Regions from separate parts of the Homo sapiens genome. Here all the other regions are linked to region 3. The links come from fine-mapping of genetic effects on gene expression. A gene starts in region 3. Each other region holds a variant in brackets. All regions are shown on one strand. Distances are from middle to middle.

Evidence for each region.
Region 1: its variant is fine-mapped to the expression of MAN2A1 in monocytes after Pam3CSK4 (Quach 2016, PIP 0.95). The same link has a PIP of 0.9 or more in monocytes and monocytes after LPS.
Region 2: its variant is fine-mapped to the expression of MAN2A1 in whole blood (TOPMed, PIP 0.98).

What each region holds. Positions count from the first base shown.
Region 1 is chr5:109,653,684-109,659,516 of GRCh38, reverse strand. No RefSeq gene overlaps it. Among named protein-coding and RNA genes, the nearest start is that of MAN2A1, 33 kb to the left of the region's middle. The variant T/C (reference allele first, on the strand shown) is at 2,531.
Region 2 is chr5:109,869,548-109,875,380 of GRCh38, reverse strand. It overlaps MAN2A1 (mannosidase alpha class 2A member 1), which reads right to left. Exons shown (of 22, transcript NM_002372.4): 22 at 5,756-5,833. Among named protein-coding and RNA genes, the nearest start is that of LINC01848, 11 kb to the left of the region's middle. The variant T/C (reference allele first, on the strand shown) is at 3,250.
Region 3 is chr5:109,687,630-109,693,462 of GRCh38, reverse strand. It overlaps MAN2A1 (mannosidase alpha class 2A member 1), which reads right to left and starts at 3,536. Exons shown (of 22, transcript NM_002372.4): 1 at 2,911-3,536. The coding sequence starts at 3,045. It overlaps MAN2A1-DT (MAN2A1 divergent transcript), which reads left to right and starts at 2,364. Exons shown (of 1, transcript NR_186543.1): 1 at 2,364-5,662. RefSeq lists silencers at 2,673-2,772, 3,183-3,392, 3,423-3,942, 3,953-4,242 and enhancers at 4,353-4,452, 4,212-4,880.

The sequences.
Region 1 (5,833 bases), 34 kb after region 3:
ATAACACATTGTGATATATTTTTCTTCATTTATGTTTTAGAGTCAGACTTAGATTAGAAAGAAACTGGGAAAAAATCTCTAGCATTAGTATCCGTATTTGGTAAAGAGGGTAACAATAACATTACATCAGTTGATTCTTGGTAAATGTTTTGTATCTTGGTGAGAGTGATAGGTCCTAGAATTTTATTCTTTTCTTTCCTTTCAAATTTCCTTCCTGCTGCAAATCTAATCCACTAGAAGAAAAAAAAAATGTGTAATTGATTGTCCATTAGCTCTAATATACTATTAATATAAAAGTTATTTTCTCCCTTTTGAAATAGTTTTATGAGACCTGAAAGAATACTCCAGATTTTAAAATTTCTGAAGGTTCTAATAAACTGTAGCATTGTTTAATGTTGGTCATACTTATTACCCAAAAGACTACTAGGTGAGGAGATAACCATGGTACTATTATCATGCATTTACATCAACTACTTTTACATTAACCTATATTTTTCCATCAGTATTAGATATGAAAATGTAGGCACAACTGAGTAAACATATAAAATGATGAGGCATTTGTTAAAACATGGTATAAATTTACTTCTCACTAAATCCTATCACATATTTTTCCTTAAAAACATAATGATTAGAAGTCATTGTTTATCTGTGGGATCTTGATATTACTTTAAGCTCTTGAAGAGCCTAGCAAAGATGTGACCTCTGTCCTAAGTTTTATATTTCAAATTCCTCTAAGAGGGATAAAAATGACTTCAAGATCTGGCCACTATTTCTCAGCTGTCAAAAATGTCTTTTTTTCTGGTGGTAGAGAAATATCATATTGCACTGTTTTGTTTCAAGGTCATCTGTCAAGAGTCTCAATTTACCTGCAAGTCTTGATGGATCTTAAACATCAATAAATGACCCATTTCTACCTTGCAATATAAAACTGAGTCTATTCTTGTGTCATCTAATAAGACTATGAGTGCTTTTTTAGCAGCATTGGCAGTAAATACTCAAAAACATCGCATCTAATTCTTTTTTCTTTCTCTCTGGAGAGAGGACTAAGATGTCTCCTCCTAAGGAATATGAACTCTCTGGCATCATCTCTTTGTCAAACAGTTCACCTCATAATGAAGCAATAACCTTTCTATATACAGAATCTTTAAAAAAAAAAAAAAAGTGTGTCCCTATTGCGAGAGAGGCACTATCTCTGCCTGGATTGTCCATAAGGCATCCCTTTGTGTGCTTCCTCTCTATTCTCACAGAATGTAAAGCATTATTTCACACTGATATACCAAACAACCATCTGGACCACACAGTCGTGGGTAGTTTATTAAAGGGAAGTTTTTAAAAAGGAAACGACAAGAACCCATTTTATTCTTTACATTGTAAGCATAAGAACATCAAATGTCAATGAATTTATTTTTGTGTGATCCTGAGTACCTCTTTGCTGTTGTATGGAACATTCAACATTTCTTTTTGCCCAGGAAGCCTAAATAGGTTAGTATATAACCGGATAAGTTATTTAATATGTTTTCCATAATTATCATTGATGCTAATTGTTACAACATTTTGTCAAGGCACTATATTTTAAGTAAACTGGCTCTCTCCATCATATCCCCCTCCATGCCATTATCTTTTATCCAACAGAGAGCCAGAAAATTCATTTATTTATTTATTCAGCCATCAAAAATATTTGTGGAGTACTTTCTACATGCAAGGCACTCTTCTTAGTGTTAGAGAGTATTCAAAGAAGTTATTTTTTAAAAAAAAAAAAAACCCTTGCTTTCAAGGACCCTAGGCTTTGATAGAGACAGTAAGATGTGCTTTCAAAAACCCACAGTAGAAAGCAATGCTATTTGAGTGGTAAAGGGAAGGCAAATATGTATTGATCATCTAAGTGCATTCACATGTGATCTCATATAATTCTTACAGCAATCCACCCCCAGGAGTATTATTATCATCCCCTTTTTTTAAAGATAAAAAATGAAAGAACTTCCTGAAGGTCATAGGATTTTAAAGTGGATCTCTCTGAGTCCAAAGCTCATGCTCAGTCTGGCAGGAATACAGGCTCAAACTTTCAGGAAAGGAGAAGGCCTATGCTGATGTGGTCGGGGACACCAAGGCTGGAAAGAGAAGTGAGGTTTGGAGAGAAGGTATTCCAGGAATAAGGCACAGGGAAAGAAGTGGGGTGGGAGAGAGAAGAACTCACTTGAGGAACAGCAAGAAATAGTGCAGACAAGTAGTGGAAAATCAGGCTAGAACTAGTAGCTTTGGGCTCGAGGAGTAAGACCATTTAGTGGTGAACTGTGAAGATTACAGTTTTTTCTGCAACCGGCAGTTCTACTGGAACATTCTGATCAAGGACATGGGATAAAGAATGTCATTTTTCAAAAAAAAATTCTGCCAGTAGAGTACAAAAGCATGACAGAAGGAAGAGATACAATCTATTCCATCATTCCTGGTGCAAGCCACATTTCTGGGTTGGCCCAGGAAGCTGCCAGTCATGCTTCCTGTGGTTTGCGGTGAACATGTTCATTCCTTCTTG[T/C]GTGAAACTGGCAGTTCCTTCTTAGGTCTAAATGTGTCATGTGGAAGTGCTCCCATGGCGACACGAAAAGAGAAGCAAGGCAAGAAAAAGAGTCAAACTTGTTTTGCTGTAATTCAAATAATAATTTTACTCCCTGAGTAAGCTCAGTTTTTTCATGCATTTCTTTTTATAGTAAGGCCAATGTTTATTCTGGCCATGAAAGGAGGAGAGAGTCTGGGGTCATTGCCACTTCATAAATACCCTTCACAAAAGCATACCTAATAAAATTTCTAGATGGTCTAGATGGAAAGGGTCAGAAGGGTGGCAACCAGCTTAAAAGGCAATGGCATTACTGAAGTTTCTGTAGCATACTAATTGAGGTTGATGGTAGGAGTTCAGTGCTAGGAGACATAGATACGTCCAGATATTGCAGGAGTGCCCAAACCCTGAACCTAAACCACTCTCAATTTTCCTTTATCATAGGGTATTCCTGCCAATTGTGTATTAGAGTCACCTGGAGAGTTTTGAAAATATACCCATATCCAGGCCCCACCACCAAGAGGTTCTGAATTACTTGATCTTTGGGCATTCCTCCCCATCAACACCTCACCCCATTTCTAAAATGAGGTTTAATTTACACAGGGTAGTACACATAGATTTTTGGTCTAAAGTTTGATGAACGGGTGCAGTTTTTTAAACTTAGATGCCATAAAATTCAGAGATGAACATTCTTTGACCTTCAATTTGCAGGCTGAATTCTATAAGGATAGGGGAAATTCGGAGATGTAGCAGAAATGGAAATAATTGTTCAAATTACCTTTAAAGGGTATGTTGGCCTGCACTTACTCAGACAGTACAGTTTGGCAATGCTCACTATATATAATCCTTTTCATTTTATGTTATGTATGCTGAAACACTGGATTCACACTGCACATCAGTTAACTCTGGGAAGACAGTGCATCAGGAGGCCAGAAGATTCTTTCCCTTTGTGAGTCATATCACCGACATAACCTGAAAGCTTGTTATAGAGGAGCCAGATTGTATAAAAAAGTGAGTCCAGAGGGCTGTTTTTGGTGGTACAATCTTGGCCCCAATGCTTTAATAAAGACCCTTGGGTGATCCTGTTATTATGCTTGGAAACAATGGAAAAGGGAGCTCACAGGGGATTCTGGCAGCAACAGCATGTCTAAAGGCAAAAGCCTTGCCTTGTTTTGTGCTTCCAAACATAAGATCATCTGCATGGAAATATACCAGGGAGTATGAAGGAATCAAACCCAGAAAAGCATTAAGGTAGGGAAAATAGAACGAGGAACTTAGGACATTGTTTGATTGCCTTGTCACAATTAAAACTGCTTTGGAAACACTCATAAGGGAGAAGAGCAAGAATTTCATTGTTATGAAAAGAGTGATTTTGGTAAACATGCAAGCAATTAAACATGCAAGATATAACTTTATTGTCTGATGTTTATTCCTGGCATTCTTTCTGGTAGAACTGATGACACACTAAAACCTAATTTCTGGAACCAGTTTTTGAAAGCTCAGATTTTAAATTCTTATTGGTTATTGACAATGAGCAAACTCTTAACAAAGCATAGAAACCACACAGGATTTCCATTTCAACATTAGGCCTGGAAAAATATTGTCATAATTTTAACATTCTAATTTCAAAGGGATGGTAAAAATGAGTGAATAAATTTTATATGTAAGTTATCTAAAAGGAAGATGTTAATATTTGGAAATGTAGGCATACCAACAAAACACATATTCATTTCCCCTCAGTGCCTATATATAATTTACTATAGTTTCACCTAGTTTGCCATACTAGGCCAGGCTCTGAGAAAATTTCCTGACATGAATTATCTCATATAACACAACACTTTTATGGTGTTGGTCCTGTTTTTACTATTCCCTGTGTTACAGATGAAAGAACTGAGAAGTTAAATAACAATTCCAAGGTCACCTACCTAGCAGAGGCAGATGCAGGACTGGACTCCAGGCAGTGCTATTTCAGACCCAGGGAGAAGCACAGAATTAATATGTCAAGTTCCCTCAATCATGTGCAATATACAGCATCAGAAATATACTTCATGGCCCCCACTGGAGCCTGTTCAGAGGCAGGATAGGGAAGTCAGGGATTTGAAGCTCAACCCTGGCCTCACCTCCCCTCACCCTCTAGGGCTTCGTCAATCCTCACAAGAAGTATCAAACAATGAGGTAGGTTTTTTTTTTTCTTCATCCCCTCTCTTCCCTTCGGGCAGCAGGTTCAAAGTGACCAGAAGGACAGTCGTAGCTGTAGACAAGGATGGCAGTTGCGGTGGTTCCCCTCTGCGTATGACCCTGGAAAGCAGAGGATGATTCAGAACAGTGTCAGCAGCAGGCCCCGGGGAGGTGGCTGTGCCTGGGCTTGGATGAGTGATTCTGAGGAGGCCTCTCTGTCTCTGCTGTGATTTGTCCCTGTGCCCTTAAACCCACTATTCAATTTTTGGACCAAAGGACTGTTTCTGGAGAAATAATAGTGAGATGTAATACTAACTGCAGGTGTTGTTCTAAGCACTTCACATTTATAACTCCTTTCATCCTCGTTAAAAAACCTGTGAGGTAGGTAATAGGGTCACCAGCTCATCCCTGTTTGCTTAGGACTTTCCTGATTTCAGCACTGAAAGTCCTGTCACAGACAAACTGGGATGGTTTGTCACTTCAGGGAGGTACTGTTCCCTATAAAAGATAACAGAGGCCAAGAGAAGCACAGTGACTTGCTCAAGAACACAGCATTAGCAAGTGCAGAGCCAGGATTAAAGCCAGATAGTCCTACTCCAGAGCCTGCACATAACCAATAATAATATATAAATATACTTTCTTGAGGACAGGGGAAACTTAAGGATGGACCAATAACAATGATGATAATATCATCCCAAAGACATTTGAGCCAGGAAATCAGAGAAGAGAAGAGGTTACTGGGAAACTGTGCTAGTCAGGCCCTTTGTTGACATTGTGTCACTGAACTCTGACAACCCTGAGTGTTAGTGGGTATTATTTCTGTTTTGAGGATGAAGAAACAGAAATTCAGGAAAGGTGAGTTTTGCTTACAATCATAGAGGTAGATTTCAACTAACTCTTGTTGTTTCTGAAGTCAATGATACTTCATTGCGTCTGTCTACTTTTAACAAGAACTAACATTTGTGGAGCACTTTATAGTCTAGAAAGCCCTGTCACATGCACCAACTCCTTTGATCCTCGGGAGCCCACCTGAGGTGAGCATAGCAGTAACAACATTTTCACTTACACATGAAGGCACTGTGGATCTGAGAGGCCGTGTGTTCTCTG
Region 2 (5,833 bases), 180 kb before region 3:
CTTCTATGAGAAATGAGATTTCTTGCCTTTGTGCTGTTGGTTTCAAGTCACCCTCCTCTCACACACCCAGTTGGTGATACACTTATCCTTCAGGCTCAGCTCTAATTCTCCTACCTCCTTGCCTTCCCTCCTCATCATTCCAGATGGAAGGAAAGTCTCCTTCCTCTGTACTCCCAGAGGATTTGTCATTTGTGCCACTAATGTGACCCTCTTGCTCTCATCTTCTGGCACCTTAACTGCACTGGGATTTATCTCCCTTACTAATAGGAGGGCAGGATTATTAGAATCCCCCTCTCTCAGAGCCTGGCACAACTGCCCTGCTTAAATGATAAATTCAGTTAATGTTCATTGATGGCACAATGCAAAAGTGAAAACCGATTGCCTTCAGGCTCCTCTTAAAGGTACCCCACAAATTCCGTAAGGATGAATTTGCAGATTTTACTTAAGAAAATATATTTTAACCTCAAAGTAATCTTATTACCTGCACTTAGAAAATTCATTTAGGAAGATGAATACGTGAATGAATGACTCACATGATTTTTCTGGAACACTCACTTCCATATAGCTGGTCCGAAATTATTTCAGTCCTGCATATGGCTGAAAAATCCATCCCAAGAAACACAAAGGCTCTGAGTCTCCAGTTCTAGGAGGGAGTTTCAGACCAAACAAAGACCTACCCTCAACTTCAGATCAAGCTTTGAAAGCCAACCGGTGAGGGTTCCATTTTATTTTACTGGTGTTTCACACATCCAGACCCTATAGGTACATCTTGCTTGCTAGCACTGTCATTTAGCTCTGAGATCAGAAAATGAGTCCTAAGGCTAAACTGTGAATTTAAAAAACTGGGAGCCAAGAACTCAAGTCTACATGTAAAGCCCGTAAAATAGGCCCTTCTACAATGTCAATCTAAACAATAAATTTGAAAAAAAAAAAAAAAGGCCTTTTTAAATAGCAGTGTTACAATTTCCCTCCTTTGTAGATTTAGAAATTCACAGACGGCTTCTCAATGATGTTTGAAAAAGTCTCAAAGTACTTGAAAGAGTTACTTGACATACTTCAAAGAAACTAGATGCCACTGACTCATTGCTCCCACCTCAGCCCCTTTTACTTATTCTTCCCCTCTACCTCCAGTTTTTGGTTGACATTTGGAAGGGTCATCTTGCCACACAGGAGCCAGCCCCAATTCCACATCTGAATTAAAACACTCTCAGAGTATATGCTAAAGGAACTCTAAAATCTTCAGGCATTTCCCTAGTACCCACATGCTTAGTTCACTTTGCATTTTTAAAAACCCGTCTACACACCTTATGTTTGAAAAAAGATACTGCAGTGTAATAAAGTGCAGTTTATTAAAATTTTTGAGCAGAATGTGCGAGGGGTGAGGGGAGGAGAGACAAAGTAAGAGGCCATGTTCCAAGGGACTGACTGCAATCAAGTGCACTTGAGTGGACTTAGTCACTCAAGTCCACATGTACTCATTCAGCAAAGCATCTACATAAGTAAGAGCGTGGTGCTGGGGCAGTGGTGACACCCAAGAGCATTGGTTTAAATGCTTTTAGCTCTTTGTCACGTAACACTAAACTCCAAATACTCAAGTGAGTTATTACTTCATACAACGAGAAAATTGGAATTGGTTCATTCACCAGCTCAGCATCATCAGGGACCAAGGCTCTACTTATCCAGTTGACTTCTGTCCTCAGGCTTTCCCTGCAGGGTTACAAAATGGCTGCAGCAGCTCCAGCATCAACACTTACCCAATGCTGTCTTTGAACACGGTCATGCGAGAGTAAGATGCTCTCCCCTTTTTAAGAGGGAGAAAAGAGGCTTGTCCCAGAAGCTCCCAACTAATTTCCATGATAGGTCATTGGATTGGCCAGAATTGTATCACATATCAATTCCTAAATCAATAATCCAGCCTGGAGAAGGAAATTATCATGATCGATTTAGACCAGCCACGATTCCCCCTCTGAGACCCACGGCTACCTGATACTTGAGAGTAAAATCAGAGTTTTGTTAGGAAGAAGGTGAAGGGGCAGATTTTGGTTGATAATAACTTTCAGTATATTCCACAAGGTCATATCCTTTGAGGGGATTAGGAATACAGCTTGAAAATTTATACATTCTTTACTGGCCATGGGAATTCCCTGAGAGTTTTGAGCAGGGAAATAACATGAACAAACAAATATTTAGATGTAAGGGATTTTGCAGCCTTTTATTCTGAAATTATAATTCTTGTTTCTCTACATTTACAGGTGGTAATCACTATTCATTTATTGAACAAATATTTATGGAACCCCTGCTGTTCCAAGCGTGGGGATACAATGCAAGACGGCTGCAGTTCTTGCCCTCAGAGGAGCTTACATTCTAATGGGGAAGTAAAACCAACAAAATTTCAGGTTTGGCTCTTCCTGTAAGAAAAAGGAGATAACTCAGTGAAGGAGTGGAGGTAGGACTCTGATAATGTGGCTGGTCAAGAGAAGAGGGCCTTAAGAAGATGACAACTGAACTAAGATGAGAAGGATAGGAGGAGGCCTGCCATAGGGAGGTCTGAGAGCAGAGCCTTTGATGCAGAGGGAAGCGCAAGGCCCTTAAGAGGAATGATCTTGGCGAGCTAGAGACCCAGAAAATCCTAGACAACTGTCAGTAAGAGGGAGAGTGGTAGAAGGCAAGACTGGCTTGAGTCAGGAAATAAATTTTTAAGCAACACACAAAATAAAGTTCACATACGCGGAAGGGCAGGGACCAGGCCAGGTAGGGCTTTTAGGCCATGGCAAAAGTTTCTATGTTAATCCAAGTTAATATGTGTCTACGTTTTTCCAGAATAAACAGAAGATTTTTAACAAGGAAGATTTTTGAATGTCACTTTTTAGAAGTGGGCAGGACCGGAAATAGCTTGTAATTGGTTGGTGTTAGGACAAGTGCACAGATTTTATGGGATGCTTTCAGGCAGTAGAGATTGTAAGGGTGGGACTTAAGAGTTATTTAGAAAAGTTTGACAAGACAGAGATCTGACTTCTTGAAAAATGTGCTAGGGCAGCTTTAATGAGCACATGAACTCTTGGGGGAATCTTGTTAAAATGCAGATCCCAATTCAGTAGGTCCGGGGTGGGACTTGTGAGGCTTCATTTCTAACACGTTTCAGGCAATGTCAATGCTTCTGGGATGAGGACCACACTTTGACTAGCAGGATTCTAGCAAAATGTGGCCTTAACTTGTATTTTCAGTTGTACTTTCTACTAATGTATTATA[T/C]GTAACTATGCACTCTAGACACAGTAGCCACGTGTTGCTATTTACATTTAATTAAGATACTCAGTTCCTTAGTTGCACTAATCAGATTTCAAATATTTAAGAGCTAAAAGAGGCTAGTAGCTACCACACTGGACAGAGCAAGTATAAACAACATTTCCATGATCAAAGAAAACTTTATAGCACAGCACTGCTTCAGACAGAAGATAGTACTTCTAGTTTTTTAGGATTTGCTGTTATCATGTCTTCCCCCCGCCGCCCCGCTTTTTTTTTTTTTTTTTTTTTTTTTTTTTAACAGGGGACACATATTGTCTCTACCTGCTAAAATCAAATTCGTCTTCTAAGAATTAATTATCTCAAGTCCACTTCTTCTATGAGACCTTTCCTGAAACTCAAACTGGGTGTTGCTTTCAGCTTCCTTTAAATCCACAATCTCCACTTGGTTTTCCTCTGCAATGTATTCCTACTGTATTTTGCCTGCCTAGTATCCAAAGTGTCTGAGCATCCAACTCCTGTTTCTCTGGTTGTAGAACTCCATTTTCTTTGGGTTGGGGGTGGGGCACTACTTCTCATCCATTTCTCCATGTGATTCAGTTGAACCTAAGTCTATACTCCTAGCCATAATCATTAGCACATGAGCCAGATGAGAGCCAGTGACATTAATCCCAGGACATTTGCTGAAAAAATTAGACAAAAGTGTAGATAAAAGTGCCCTTTCCACTGAGGTCTCTGAGCTGTCTGGATGCCAGTCTGGACCTGCTGGCAGCCATTTTGCCATTCAATGGGCAGACCTTGCCCAAGAATGAGGACAACTCAGGGGAAAGAAAAACCGAGAGATCCAGACAGAGCTTAGATGGCATCTCATACCTGGCAATAGCTGTATTTGGAGTGTTATCTACCTTGAACATTAGTTACTGGATAGTTACAATTTCCTATTTTTGCTTCATCTAGCGTGTATTGGAGAAATCTCGCCCTTTACAACCTCTTAAGACGTTTGTTTTCTGCTTTGATATGTGGTAGTAACAGAGTACTTGCTAATTCTTTCAACTCCCCTGTGATCCAACTTTTCAACATCATAACGGCCCTTTGTTAGTCTGATTCGAAGGTTTGTAAAAGGCATTGTGAACATATGCCCACCTAAATTTTCTTTACCAATTTTAATACTCAAATTATTTTAACATGTTAATGATCTAATTTTATGGGGCCAAAGACAAGTCTCATTATTTCTCAATGACACCTATTTTTACTAACTTCTACAGATTGTTACACTCCTGTGTGTACATAACTGGGTTATTATTATTTTTTGAAACAGATTTTCACTCTTATTGCCCAGGCTGAAGTGCAGTGGCGCAGTCTCAGCTCACTGCAACCTCCGTGTCCTGGGTTCAAGCAATTCTCCTGCCTCAGCCTCCAAAGCAGCTGGGATTACAGGTGCCCGCCACCATGCCCGGCTAATTTTTGTATGTTTAGTAGAGATGGGGTTTCACCATGTTAGCCAGGCTGGTCTCAAACTCCTGGCCTCAAGTGATCTGTATGCCTCAGCCTCCCAAAGTCCTGGGATTACAAGCGTGAGGCACCACACCCGGCCTTAAGTGGATTATTTCTTTACTGCATAAGTTATCCAAACCAAGTGCAGATTTCCTAGTTAACATGTACTGTTTACCTAGCTAACCCATGTGTACCTCCCTGAATATTTATTCTCTCCACCTGCGCCTGCCTCTCAGCTTTGAGGGGACTCCTCTAAAGTCATTGAAGCTGTGTAATAGTCTGGGCCAGCAGGCTGGAGGGTACCTCCAGATCCGACTCTTTCAACCCACCCTCCCTTCTAGATCAACTCACATGGACCTTCTTAGCTTCATGTCTGAGCTTACTCCCCTCCACAACTTTGTCCTGCTTATATATGGAATCTGACCACAATCTGCCTACCTCCTAATGGGCTCAGAAGGCCCCGTGGGGCACAGGTGCTAGGAAGGTCCCTAGACTTCAAGCTGAAAGGTGCCTCCAAACCCAGATGTAACACTCACCACCACCCATCTACAATCTTCACCCTACAACTACATTTTCTAACTACAACTGGACTAAAGAAAGAGCAATCCAGGCCAGGCATGGTGGCTCACGCCTGTAATCCCAGCACTTTGGGAGGCTGAGGTGGGTGGATCACGAGGTCAGGAGTTCAAGACCAGCCTGGCCAAGATGGTGAAACCCTGTCTCTACTAAAAATACAAAAATTAGCCAGGAGTGGTGGTGGGTGCCTGTAATCCCAGCCACTTGGGAGGCTGAGGCAGAGAATCGCTTGGACCCAGGAGGCGGAGGTTGCAGTGAGCTGAGATTGCACCACTGCACTCCAGCCTGGGTGACAGAGCGAGACTCTGTGTCCAAAAAAAAAAAAAAAAAAACCCAATCCATCATGAAGGAACAAAGAACAGACCCTCACTACTCCCCCTACCCCTTCATTATGTTTTAATACATGTTTACAAAATAGGATTAAGAACTACTCTAGAGGACCATGTACATGATAAGATTATCTTTTATTAGAGATCTTATATTACATATTCCCAAAAAGATATAAAATCTTCCAAGAGAAAAT
Region 3 (5,833 bases):
GAACCCAATACCTATCTAAATAAACCGTTCTACTAGATACCAAAAAATGACACATAGTGACCGACCTGCTTGGCTCTACTAAAACTCAAGAATTCAATACCCAAACTTGCCAAACAAATGTATTGCAACCTCCTTTTGCTATGTTTGGTATTATTAAGAATAAGTTAGAAGCAGTGAAAAAAAAAAGAATCAACTCAAGTTCTGGATGCTGGACTACACAATGGTTTTCATTATAATGTTTAGCTCTGAAATGAGCTCAAAGACATTCTGGGAAGGGTATAAATCTCTAGCAGTAAATGTTTCAGAAAAAGGACCATATTCATTATGGCTTCAAAATAAAAGTTCCTTTAGTCATAAGCTAAGGTACCAGAGAGCAACATGCTCTATACAGGGGGCAACCAACCCCAGGGCCATGGACCTGTTAGGAACCAGGCCACACAGCAGGAGGTGAGTGGCATAGCAGGTCAGCAAGCATTACCGCCTGAGCTCCACCTCCTGTCAGATCAGCAGCAGCATTAGATTCTCATAGGAGCACGAACCTTATTGTGAACTGCGCATGCCAGGGATCTAGGCTGCATGGTCCTTATGAGAATCTAACGCCTGATGATCTGAGGTGGAACAGCTTCATCCCCAAACCATCCCCCGAAACCCCCGACTCCCCCCATCCCCACCCCTGTCTGTGGAAAAACTGTCTTCCAGGAAACCAGTCCCTGGTACCAAAAAGGTTGAGGATCACTGCTCTATATTTTACATCAGATCTTTCCATAAGCAAATGGCAGCCTAAACAGTAGGCAACAGATTCCTAAGAGGCAAGACAACTCAGTGGCTGGGAGCCTGGGCTACAAAGGCTACCTGTTCAAATCTCAGCTTGCAGCTGTGTGATCTTGGGCAAGCTAATTAATCTCTCCGTGCCTCAGTGCCTCAGTCCCCTCGCCACTTAAGTTTTACCCTGTAAGATACGAAGGCTAATGTCACACACATAACGGTTAAGCTTACAGAGGGGTCTTAGAATGTCTATCTGCTTGAGGATTCAGTGGCCGTCCAAGCACTTAAAGAATACCTTCTTTCTGCAGTGAAAATCCAGTACAGAAAATCTGAGAAAGGCAATCTTAAATGCAAAATGTTCCACCTCCCAGTTGAGTACCAACAGCCTTCCCCTCCAGCAGCCACTTTGACCTTTCATCAAATGCTTTACGCTTAAAGCAGAACTTCAGCCTCTCATTGAGGACTAAGGATAGATATTACAATACTGGAATTAGCTTTGCCTAAGATTTCTCAGTAACTGAATGAGTCACTCATGTCTTTAGATTCTGAACAGAGAAAATGTCAAGGTTGCCAGAAAACCCAGGTCCAGATGTTTGCATAAACCATTTTCAAGTGATCATCAAGCCAAAGCCAAAGGACATTATTTTAGAAAACACTTTAAGTAAAAATATCACTTTTTATGATTTTCCTGTAATGGAGGAAAATCTGAAAATGAGGTTACTGGAGGGAAAAAAATTACAGTAATTTCAACCCCAAAATTACACAACATATCAAGCTAAGCTTAAAACTCCTTACCTTTTTCCAACTGTTTTCTTCAACCTCATCAAGAAGCACTGGACAAGCTCTGAGCTCAAGATTTAAAGATGCCCTCAGTGCTTGTTTCTATTTTCTCTGTCATACTACCTAGGGGAAGCAGAGGCTTTTAAAATTTTGATACATCTCTCTGCAGCAAGATTTTTAAAACCTCTCACCGACAAAACATGTTGAGTGCTCTGTATTGATGACAGCATCCATAAAAGGGTCTTTTTTCACTTTCACAATAATTCCAGTAAAGTTTTTACTTTAATCTCAATTAAATTCAAGCCATTTGCTCTAGCATAACACAAAAAAAATGGCAAGGATATTCTTTGGTCATTTAAGTTATCACAAAAGAGAAAAAAATATATATCAACTTCACGTCTAGGCTTCTCTTTCTCGTAAGTCAAGTAGGAATAGTTAGATTGCCCTGTCAGGGTTTGAGTTCTTCAGGTTCATTCGTTACAGAGCACACTACACACTACACAATACCCAGTTTCACCGCAATTTCTGAAGTGCACGGGTTATATTGGCAAGTAACTTGAAACTGAACTCGCACATGCCGCGCGGTGGATACCCTTCCAAAGGGAACAGACTGTGTCCGCTTTGCTTATTTTTGGTAACTTTAAATAAGACTTTGGATGGGTCGTCTTCCCAACTCATTTACCAATTTAACCACTGGACGCAGGACTGAGCGCCCCACAGCTTTCGGCCGGAGTATAACACGCGCTTCCCCACTCGGTTCCCCCTGTCTGCCACAAACAAACCAGATGTAATAGCTGAAGAATGACGACACTAAAATCAACCTAGAGATTCACATCTAAAAGGGCCGCAACACGAAATAAACTTCTCTCTCTTCAGAGGCAGCGGGGAAGAAAAAGAAAAAAAAGCCTAGGTGGGTTCGGTTTGATCCATTTCCGCGACTCCGTGCGCTCAGGGGCTCTGGGCTGGTGCGGGCGGCTTAACCCTGTGAGAGCCGAGAACGACCCCACCGGGATACGCGGGCCCCGGGCTGGCGGGGGGTGCCTCACGCCGCGCCCGTTCCCCCGCCAGCAGGTGCCCGAAGCCACCCCAACAGGCCGGGTGCGAATGCCGGAACATGGCCACTTTCCTGAGCGGGATGATGCCGCCGCCGCCGCCGCACGCCGCCCAGCACTTTGTTAACTTGGCGCGCCCGGGCGAGGTGGCTCCCAGGAGGTGATCATTGCCGTCCGAGAGCTACAGAGCCCCTGGCCTCGCCCAGCACGGGTGTGGGGCCGCGGCGGGAGGAAGAGGTTGGGTAGCAGCCGCTAACCAGGGGCCCGCACGCCTGGCCCCTCGGAGCCCCGCGCCCCCTTCCCAGGTGCTTACCTGAGGGAAGGAGCCCTCGCGGCGCGGGTTCCTGGGGTAGTCTAAGTGACCCCGGTCCAGCATCAGGTAGAGCGAGAAAATCACCACACAGAAGATCGCACTGCCGAACACGGTGAACTGGCGGCTTAACTTCATTTTCCTCGATAGACTCGGGGCCAGGACACTCTCCTCAGCCAAAGGAGACAGCGCACTGTGGACTCTAGGAAGCAGCCGCCGGAGGCTCCCTTCTCCCGGGCTGCGCGACCTCCGCGCTCTCGGATGCGGGTGCGAGTCCCCGCCTTGCTCCGCACCTAGTCTCCGGCGCCACCACACGCCCTTGGCCTTCGCCCTGGCCTGCCGCCCTCCCCGGGGTCGGGCGCCCCTCTCGAGGCGAGACTCGCCGGCAACTGGGAAGGGGGGCCCCCACAAACTTGATCGCAAGCTCAGCGCCGACCTCCGGCAGGGCGCGCGGGGCAGGCGGAGGAGAGGTCGCTGCCCGCACTTCCTGCCACCGCCGCCCCAACTGAGTCGGCAGGAAAAGTTTTCTCGACGAGGGCAGGCGTGTCCTCCTCACCCAGGGGAGGCGCGGGTTCGGCAGCTCCCGGGCCGGGGCCGCGCAGCTAGGTCAGAGAAGCGGAGGGGAAAGGAACAAGATCGCGAGGAGCCAAGCCCTACAACTTCTGGGCGGGACGGTCGGGCCCGCCCCCGCGGCACCGGCACCGCCCCCGCCTACCCCGACTGAGCCCCTTCGTGCTGCTGCCGCCGCCGCCGCCGACGCTGCGGCTGGGCCGATGTGCACCCCGGACTCCGGGGCTCACGGATTGATGAGTTTCCTCAGAGCTAGCGTCCGCTCGCCAGACTCTCCCGCCCCCCGCCGCCCCTACCTTCCCCCTCCCGGACCCAGGCTCCGCGGGGAGGCGCAGGGGGCGGGCGGCGGCAACGCGGAAAGAAGGAAAAGGAGAGCAGGGAGGAAAGGACCGTCCCCGGAGAGAAGCCCGCTCCAGCTGCAGCCGCTAGCCCCCTCCCTCTTTCCCGCCCCACAAACGCGGAGATGGCGGCGGAAGCGGCGAAAGGAAGCGCCGGTTCTCCAGCGCCACTTGGCGCTCCAGCACCGCCCGCCACGAGCAGGAGGAGACAGCGGCGGCGCAGCAGCCGCTGGGTCAATAGGCGCCCGCAGCGCCTGAGCCGAGCGGGCGGCTGGCCCCGCCCCCTCCCGACGCTCCGAGATGAGGGGGCGGGCCCCACGGCGCCCAATCACAGCGCGTCGCCCGGCGGACCCGCCCCGCGCCTGCCTCCCAGTGTCCCGGCGATAGGAAGACCTCACAGGGCTCTTGTGACCTGGCAGGCAGCTTTCTGGGAGTTGAGGCCTTCGGGGGCGTTCAGGCGCCAGCACCCCCACGTCCAACAGGGGTTGAGCTTACACCCCACTTCCCTTTGTTGCTCAGGTTTCCTATCCTAGGACACTCGGGCCTGGCGTGCCTGGAAGAGTACTTGGTGACGGGCTGGAGGAAATGCAAGAGAAGAGGGCTTGCACATTCTCTTCGGGCTCACTATTTCCTCCTTTGGTGACAGCCTGTTAAAACCTGGGGGAAAGGAGACTGACAAAGGGCCGTCCAGGCACATGTAGAAACATCTGACTACGAAATCCATGAGTGTAATCTGAGAAGTGATGCTTCTGCCAGTTATTGATTTATTGCCTCTCAGCTCCAAATTCGCCCTTTTTGACTGCACTGTAAAAACGGATCTGAGCCTTTTAAACAGTTTTTCGTTTGCCTTCTGGGACTGAAGCTTTATCAGCAGAGGGCGCTGAAGAGACATTACAGAAAAAAAGGATTTTGCTTCCTGATTTCTGTGTATTGATAAGCTTTTGCAGCATACCTGGCTTTCTCCACTGCCAAGGTCCTATAGTGCTCAGTAACTAGCAATTTCCTCTCACATGCCCAACTCTAGGAGCTTTGTAGAGGAGGTGAGACACTACCCCATGAATAACTTCCCTGGCACCCTAGAGGCATTTGCAGCAAGTTGCAGAGGGCACATCTTCCACAAGCTTTGCAGACGTAGCCCAATGGTGACTTCTCTGCCATTCAGTGAGCCAGGTCATGCCCTCTCCAAAAACGTCTAGATCTTAGCCCTGGGAGGAATTGGGGAGGTTCTTCATTGGGCACTCTGTCTCTCAACCCAAGAGTTAGTTATAAGGTTAGCTCCTTATAGCTGCTGTTGCTATATTCTTTAAAGTTCTCTTCTTGCTAGTGAATCCTTCATTACTCTAATCCTCTATTATAGTTAACAATTCTTTTTATTAAGCCTTCCCTGTCCCGGGAGTAGTCCCAAGAAATAGACCTGCAAAGATGGGATTAAAGGTCAGTTTGATTGAGGTTTTGAGCTTTAGCTCCTTGCCAAAGGGAAATGTAATTCATGACATGCTGGGCATCTCAATTAAGCAATTACCTGTGGTTGATCCTGATGAAGTGCCAACTGAAGCCTGTGCCTTGGGGCCCCAAGTGGCTGCTACACTTGACTGCTATGGTTATAAAGATGACTAGAAAGACTGGTGTGGGATGGATTCTTTTGCGTGCTTTTGAGTGGTTATAAAGAGAAATGACAAGCACAGGTTTTTTAACTCTCAGAGTTATGGTATGAGAACCAGAGATATTCTGCAGAATTCCAAAAGCTCTGGTTTATTGTAGCAACAAGAATTATGCTGAGAATCAAACAAAATTTTAATTTTCATGTTACTGAATTATAACTGCTATTAAATTCACACATATTCTGAGTTTTTCGTGTAAAATGGTGTTATTTTTTAATAATAGAATCTCAATACTTGAAATGGGTTGGACCCAGATGAAACCGACAATCTTAAACACGCCAACTCTTTCTCTTATCAGTGGAAGTAGGTTGCCCTCCAGTGTCTAAAGAGACTAGCCTTGCTTGAAAACCTTGACTA